2 separate regions of the Homo sapiens genome follow, and region 1 is linked to region 2. The links come from fine-mapping of genetic effects on gene expression. A gene starts in region 2. The other region holds a variant in brackets. All regions are shown on one strand. Distances are from middle to middle.

Evidence for each region. PIP is the estimated chance that this variant, and not a neighbour inherited with it, causes the effect.
Region 1: its variant is the best candidate, but not a certain one, in a credible set for the expression of XPOT in whole blood (INTERVAL, PIP 0.81).

Annotation. Positions count from the first base shown.
Region 1 is chr12:64,480,646-64,484,645 of GRCh38, forward strand. TBK1 (TANK binding kinase 1) reads left to right here. Exons shown (of 21, transcript NM_013254.4): 8 at 1,197-1,376; 9 at 3,658-3,854. Among named protein-coding and RNA genes, the nearest start is that of TBK1, 31 kb to the left of the region's middle. The variant C/T (reference allele first, on the strand shown) is at 1,617.
Region 2 is chr12:64,402,212-64,406,744 of GRCh38, forward strand. It overlaps XPOT (exportin for tRNA), which reads left to right and starts at 2,181. Exons shown (of 25, transcript NM_007235.6): 1 at 2,181-2,593. RefSeq lists enhancers at 1,756-1,805, 2,903-3,779 and silencers at 2,196-2,355, 2,686-2,795.

The DNA.
Region 1 (4,000 bases), 78 kb after region 2:
TTATATTGTCATTTAAGAATCCTGTTACCACAAAGAAAGAATTAAGGTAAAAGAAATTAAAAGTAGAAAGTAAATTATTTTGTATTTCACTCTGGAAACAAAGCCAAGACATGCATCGGTATTTAGTATCTGTGATTACTGAATTAGCTTCCATTTTTCTTGAGTGTGGTAGTTATATAATCCTTAATTGGACACAAGTTATGAATTAGTGGCTTATCACCTTTTTTAAGTTGTGGGTGCTTTTTGTATGACTTTAAATAAATAAATATATAAAACAAGCTAATAAAATATCACTTATCATTTTATATGTTGGGTTCTGTGAAAATTCATTTAAACCAAGAGTTCCAATGCTGAAATCATTTTCAAAAACCACTATTGTTAACAGTTTTTTGTGTGTGTTATTTTAAAAAGTTTCCAAAATGAAATCGTCATGTAACTAGATTACTAAGAGAAATTCATTGTGTTGGAGAGTAGAAATTTAATATTATAACTGTGATTTGTGTTAAATTTTTATTTAGGAAATACTCATTTTGGGGATCTCAGGCAAAACTGATAAAGTGTAAAGGGCTCAGAAAATGAACACTTGCTGGTAAATAATTATATTGCCAAAACTCAGAATCAAAAAAATCTGATGATCTGAACTGCAGCATATTTCTGGAGGGTAACAGGCATTATCTATCGAATCAGTCTTTAGCATACCAAGTTACAAATTCTTTGAGAAAAATTGCTTAGATGCCAGAAAGTATATTATATAATTTTTTTGTTTTAAATAGTAAGAACTCTAAGTACTACAAATCAGCCGTGAAAACAACTACCAGAAATGTAATGGGTCTTGGCACGGTGGCATACACCTATAATCCCACCTGCTCAGGAAGCTGAGACAGGATACTTGAGCCCCAGAGTTTGAGACTGCAATGCATAAAGCATCTGTGAATAGCTGCTGCACTTCAGCCTGGGCAACATAACAAGACCCCATTTCTAGAAGAAAAAAAGCTATAATTCCTTATTCATTGATGAGTGGCATTAAATGAAGGTTACCTAGCTTTCTGAAAAGTTGACAGATTTTAAATTTTTTAAATTAATCTAATATAGTAATAATGACAGTTCCTTTGATTTGCTGGTAAATACTATGATTTTTTAACCTAGACAGAATATGATATATTCACTCTTCAAGTAACTTTTCAATACTATTTTAGGGGTCTTCAGGTTCTACTTACCCCTGTTCTTGCAAACATCCTTGAAGCAGATCAGGAAAAGTGTTGGGGTTTTGACCAGTTTTTTGCAGAAACTAGTGATATACTTCACCGAATGGTAATTCATGTTTTTTCGCTACAACAAATGACAGCTCATAAGATTTATATTCATAGCTATAATACGTAAGTATCTCTATTTTCTTCTTGTATCAACATGTTCTGTTATATAATATTTTCCTAAGTTAGGAAAAGAAATAGAAAAGATGCCTCAGCTTCACCAAAAGTACCCATTTCCCACATGGAAAATTATATTTAAGTGCTTAGTAAATTCCTTTTCACTTATTTTTGGAGTAAAAGGATTGATAATTCTAAAATTTATAGTTAAATTAGCTTGTTTCTTAAACTGTAAGTTTTACAAAAGTA[C/T]TTTCATTGCTGTGCCTTCTTTCAAGTTACATAATCACATAACCACAAATGGCATCTACCAATAAACCAGCCAGGTTTTGCTAAGTGTACTATCCTGCCATGTTAAAATATCAAAGCCTAAGTCTTCATTGTTAGCATGGTTATTTGCCTATGATAACCCTATGCAGATAATATGGTTACTATTAACCATAATAATGGTTAAAGCACCTGGCTCCGGAAAAATAATCAGTGTTTGTTTTATGTAAACAAAAACACATTACACCCATGTGATTAAAAAAAACTACCCATGTGATAAAACTGCATATAAAGTTTTGGTCAATGATGGACCATATATACAACACTGGTTCCGTAAGATTATAATATCATATTTTTACTGTACCTTTTCTATGTTTAGACATGTTCAGATATACAAATACTGTTTCTAATTATGTTACAGCTGCCTGCAGTATTAAGTACAGTAGCATGCTGTACAGGTTCGTAGCCTAGGAGCAGTAGGCTAGCTACCCTATATAGCCTAGGTGTGTAGAAGGCTATACCATGTAGTTTTCTGTAAATATACTCTGTGATGTTCACACAATGATGCAGTTTTTAGAACTATTCCCATCATTAAGCAATGCATGACTGTACACATACATATACTTGCATGTAAAACTGGGGAAATTTGAGTAAGTTGGGTGTATCAATGTTAATAGCTGGTTGTGATGCTTTGCTATATGCAGGATGCCACCATTGGGGGAAGCTGGGAGAAGAATATATGGTGTCTCTCTTCATCATTTCTTAGAACTGCATGTGAATCTACAGTGATGTCAATGTTTTGTAAAAAGCTCACCCAGTGTGATTATCGTTAATAATAACTTAATTGTACATTTTAAAATAGCTAAAAAAATATAATTTGATTTTCTGTAACACAAAAGATAAATGCTTGACTGGATGGATACCCCATTCTCCATGGTGTGATTATTATGTATTGCATGTCTGTAACAAAACATCTCATGTACCTCATAAATATATTCATTTCCTATGTACACACAAAAATTAAAAACAAAAAATTTTCAAAAGGTGACACAGTGGAGGCTTGTAGAGCCAAATTACAATATTGCTGCTGAAACATTTCTTTTGATGTCATTGATCTATTCATGGGGAAGCTGTCTTTTCCCCCGAAGCATCATTTTGAAAATACCTAGTTTTATTAATGTATTTAACAAACATATAGTCACATAACAAGTGCTGTTCTTGGTTCTTTACATATTTAAGCCATTTAATCCTCACAACAATTCTGTGAAGTGGGTACTGTTATTATTTCCATTTTACTGATGAGGAAACAGTGCAGAGGAGTTAAGTCACTTACGGTTTTATAGGAAGTTAGTGGAAGAGCTGAGATTTGAACCCATGTATCTGATTCAAGTCAGTGCTCTAAACCGCTCTGCTATGTTGGTTCTCTATTTGAAAATATTAATAATCTTGGCCAGGCACAGTGGCTCACACCTGTAATCCCAGCACTTTGGGAGGCCGAGGCAGGTGTATCACTTGAGGCCAGGAGTTCGAAACCAGCCTGGCCAGCATGGCGTAACCCTGTCTCTATTAAAAATACAAAAATCAGCTGGGTGTGGTGGTGCATGTTTGTAATCCCAGCTACTCAGGAGGCTGAGGCACGAGAATCGCTTGAATCCAGGAGGCGGAGGCTGCAGTGAGTCAAGATCGTGCCACTGCACTCCATCCTGGGCAACAGAGCGAAACTCTGTCTCACATACACACACACACACACACACACACACACACACACACACAGAGGAAAGAAAATATTAAGAATCCTGTATATTACACAGGTATCCAAACATAAAAATACTTTAGAATTGCTTACTGTATGGACAGGTTATATGGAATGGAGTTTGTAGTATCCACATTAACAAAGCAAGTTTATATGGACTGGTTATGATATTAGGGATATGAATTAGAAATGGATGTTGTTGCACTCATTTAAAATATTTTGCCTCTCACTTTATCCCCAGTTATAGTGTCCTTTTGAATTTTTCTCACACAGTGCTACTATATTTCATGAACTGGTATATAAACAAACCAAAATTATTTCTTCAAATCAAGAACTTATCTACGAAGGGCGACGCTTAGTCTTAGAACCTGGAAGGCTGGCACAACATTTCCCTAAAACTACTGAGGAAAACCCTATATTTGTAGTAAGCCGGGAACCTCTGAATACCATAGGATTAATATATGAAAAAAGTAAGTTGGGATTTTTCTTGTCGTTCTTACTAGCCATTAGAAAAATACAGCCAGCCTGGGCAACATAGTGAGACCTTGTCTCTACAAAAAAATAAAACAAAAATTAGTGGGGCATGGTGGCTTGCACCTGTAGTCCCAGCTGCATG
Region 2 (4,533 bases):
GGATGTGTAGACAACTGAAGTACAATAACATCAAGGCTGTTTTGACGTAAGGGCAGAATTTACAGTATGTGCTCTCACACAACTTGAAATCTTAAAGGCCTTCCGGGAACAGGGTTAATCAGAAACCAACATGGCAGATTAGTACCAAAGATGGAGTTACTTTAGCTTCCAGATTCCACCCATCAATCCAGCTCTTACAGTTTCACTCGCCCTCCTATTTGGAGATGGTCCCTGAGCTTTTAGGGAGGGTGGTTTCATATGATATAGCTTTAGCAGCAGCGCCCTAGCAGTGGAAAACAGATTGGGCCCAGAGAGATTCCAAATGAGGGAGATTCACAGGCTTTGTTGAATTATCTCTAGTCTTGAGAATACCATGACTTTGGTTTTCTCAGAAGTAAAACAAGAGATACTTCTTGTTTATAATTAATTTGAATAATTAATAATTTGAATAGTAGAAACATAATGCATGCAAGGATTACAATCAAAAGAAAATTTGTATGCCAGAACAACAAAGAACCTATTTCGTTGGGAAGCCAACTGAGAGCAGCGTGAAGAAAATTAAGGCCTGACACAGGGACTCACACTCGTAATTCCAACACTTTGGGAAGCTGAGGTGGGAGGTTCATTTGAGCCTGGGAGTTAGAGATCAGCCTGGGCAACAGAGCAAGTCCCCATCTCTACAAAAACAAACAAAAATAGCCAGGTATGATGGTATGCACCCGTAGTCCCAGCTCCTTGGGCGGCTGAGGCAGGAGGATTGCTTGAGCCCAGGAGGTCAAGGCTGCAGTGAGCTATGACCACTCTACTCCAGACTGGGTAACAGAGCGAGACCCTTTCTCTAAAAACAAGAAAAAATTAAAACCCAGTTCTCCTTTAGCGACATCTTGTAGCCACTAGCCTGACATTTTAAACACATAAATTAGAAACATGATGCAAGAGTGATTCAAGGTATTTTATATAGGAAATGCCTGGTGTAGTGTCTTGGACAGCTAAATAAAGGTAGCTGTTAAAACATTAGTTTTATTCTATGCTCTTACCATTCCTCCCTCTCCAAGTTTTGTTTGTAGTCTGTGGCAGCAACCTAGTCTGTATTTAGTACACATTGAATAATCAACAATGAAATGTAAATATTGAGCACATTGTGTGTCAAACACATGTATTAACTCAAACCTCACAGAAACCCTTTGAGGTCGGTACTATTAACAATCCCCATTTTACATACGAGTAAACTGAAGCATGGATAGACTAAAGTAAAGTGCCTGAGGTCAACTAGTGAGGAGGCGGAGTGGCAGTCAAGTCGAGGCAGCCTAAGCCTACACTGCCTCTATGTTGCATTAATAAATTAATAAATCTGTGACCAAATAAATGAAGTGACATTTAGTAGCATCGAAAGATCCCGTGAGTAGGACTTCCTAAGAATGCTCTCCTTCTTTTCATGGACAAAATTTTAGTCTGTTTAAAATAAATTTTGGACCGGACACCGTGGCTCACGCCTGTAATCCCAGTACTTTGGGAGGCCGAGGCAGGTGATCACTTGAGGTCAGGAGTTCGAGATCAGCCTGTCCAACATGGTGCAACCCTGTCTCTACGAAAAATACAAAAATTAGCTGGGTATGGTGGCGCGCGCCTGTCATCCCAGCTACTCAGGAGGCTGATGCAGGAGAACTGCTTGAACCCCGGAGGCGGAGGTTGCAGTGAGCCAAGATCTCGCCATTGCACCCCATCCTGGGCGACAGAGCGAGACTCCGTCTCAAAGAATAAATAAATAAATTAATTAATTAATTTTGAAAACCTGTCAGCACTCATCAGAGCTTTACACTGCTGTACTCGGGACACTTGGGGCCGTAGACAAGCAATTAAATTGACTCACACGTGGTTAGAACCACGTCATCCTGATTCGTGAATCCGTACTCTCAACTACTAGAAGCCCTTTGTGGAATGCTCGGGGCGAACCTGACGCTTGAGCTCTGACACCACGCAGACACAGCCGGGGATTTAGGAGCTGGGTAGGGACTCCTGGGCCGGATGCCTCATCCCGGCATGCACCTCAAGCCCCGGTGACCACGCCTTCCGGCGAGCGCCAGGGAGCGCGTGTGCGCCTCGCCGCCCGGAAGCGCCGGCCGCTCCCTGCATGCTGGGAGTTGTAGGCCTCCGGCGTCAGCCCGCGGGCTGCCGCCCGCACTCTCCAAGAGACTGCTGGCGCCGGCGCCCGCCCGCGCGGCACCGACGCGGGGAGCGCGCTTCGCGCTGACTCAGCGGCGGCGGCGGCTGCGGCGGCGGCGGCGGCGTTAGCCGGCCCTCGCGCTCTTTCCCTTCCTGGGGCGCCGACCCCGCCCGCTTGCTTGCTTGCTTGCTTGCCTGCCTGCCTGCCTGCCCGGCGCCACGCAAGAGAAGGTGCCAGGGGACGCAGAGCGACTAGAGGCGCGCGGTCCCGGCCAGCACCGTCTCTGGCGTTGTAGCTGCGGCCGTGGCGGAGGACTACGGCGACAAGGACGAGGGCCGCTCTCCCAGCTCTCTGCGTGCCGCGCCGCTCCGCTCCGCTGGCTGACCATCTGGAGTGCAGGCTGGGAGGCGGGATGGAGTGATAGGGAAGGTGACTCGGGGCTCGGGGGCAGCGGGACCGGGACCAGGTTTGGTCCGCGTGAGGCTTCGAGGAAGTTGGCCGGGGCGGACCGGCCCGGGGGAGTCCCGACGCCAGGGAGGGTGCAGGCTTGGGACCCTCTATGGCGGTGCACCCCCTGGCTGGGCGGACCGGGTGGGGGTGGGTACGAGCCGGGGCCGCCGCCGAGGAGCGCGTCCCGAGTGCGTGGCCGGCGGTTGCTTGGTGTTTCATCACCCGAATTGCCACGAGGCTTCCTTTAGGGGAGGGATCGGGGGAGGGATGGGAGCAAGGCTAGCAGAGGAGGGTCGGCATCGCCTGTGGTTCCGAAGCCCGTTAGTCATCGTTGTAGCGTTATCAACTGTGGAGACCTCAAACTTGATTCTTCCCCCACCCCTGGACAAAAAGGAAAAGTGTTATTTCTGTGCAGTAATTGGCCAGCACGGACGCTCCATTTCTTCTCAAACCTTCCTCACCATCCTGCAGGACTAGAGAAGCATGAGGTTTCCCTGTAACCAGAAAAACGAGTACTTTTTGAAAGTGCTAATTAGTTGTGGCGGGCGGGGGTTGGGGGAGAGTTACGTTTTATTAAACCGACTTGTCAGCGTGGTGTTAAAAGGCTGGAAAGATTCAGTCGTAGTATTTGAAACAGTCTTCAGTAGGTGTAGAGGAATTTTTCCAAATTGTTTGATTCTTAATGGCTATCCAGGAAAAGTTAAGGCTTAATATTTTAAGTATGTTGCTTGCCTTCCCCCAAGAACCTTTGCAAGATGCATAATTGTTTACCGTATTGAAACATTTTTTGGGGTTTTGTTGTTGTTGTTTTGAGACGGAGTCTCGCTCGGTCGCCCAGGCTGCAGTGCAGTGGTGCCATCTCGGCTCACTGCAACCTCTGCCTCCCAGGTTCAAGTGATTCTGCAGCCTCAGCCTCCCGAGTAGCTCTATTACAGGTGCGCCCCGCCACACCTGGCTACTTTTTGTATTTTTCGTAGAGATGGAGTTTCACCGTGTTAGCCAGGATGGTCTCGATCTCTTGACCTCGCGATCCGCCCGCCTCAGCCTCCCAAAGTGCTGGGATTACAGGCGTGAGCCACCGCGCCCGGCCTTCCACTGCATATTGATCGTCCAAATGCCTTCTATGTGGGGGATTCTTTCTGTAGTGACAACTGTTAACTAGTTTGTTTCCTTGGGTTTATTGGCTATGTTTTCCTTAGGGCCACTTCATTTTTCTCCCGATAGCTTCAGAGTGACTTGACCAAGCTTAAGCACTTTTTCTTTTTTTTGACACAGTGTCTCACTCTGTCGCCCAGGCGGGAGTGCAATGACACGATCTCCGCTCACTGCAACCTCCCCCTCCCGGGTTCATGCGAGTCTTCTGCCTCAGCCTCCTGGGTAGCTGGGATTACAGGCGCAGGCCACCATGCCCAGCTAATTTTTGTATTTTTAGTAGAGACGGCGTTTCACCGTGTTGGTCAGGCTGGTCTCGAACTCCTGACCTCGTGATCCGCCCACCTCGGCCTCCCAAAATGCTGGGATTACAGGCGTGAGCCACCGTGCCCAGCCAGCAATTTTTTTTAGATGGAGTTTCGCTCTCGTTGACCAGGCTGGAGTGCGGTGGCGCCATCTCAGCTCACTGCAACCTCCGCCTCCCGGGTTCAAGCGATTCTCCTGCCTCAGCCTCCCGAATAGCTGGGATTGCAGGCATGTGCCACCACACCCGGCTAATTTTTGTATTTTTAGTAGAGACGGGGTTTCTCCATGTTGGTCAGGCTGGTCTCGAACTCCCGACCTCAGTTGATCTGCGCCCCCCTCCCCTCGGCCTTCCTTAGTGCTGGGATTATAGGCGTGAGCCACCCTGCCTGGCCAGCATTTTTTTAAAAAGCCATAGCAAATTCAAGGAAGCTTTTATTGGACTTCTCAATCAGGGATTCTTA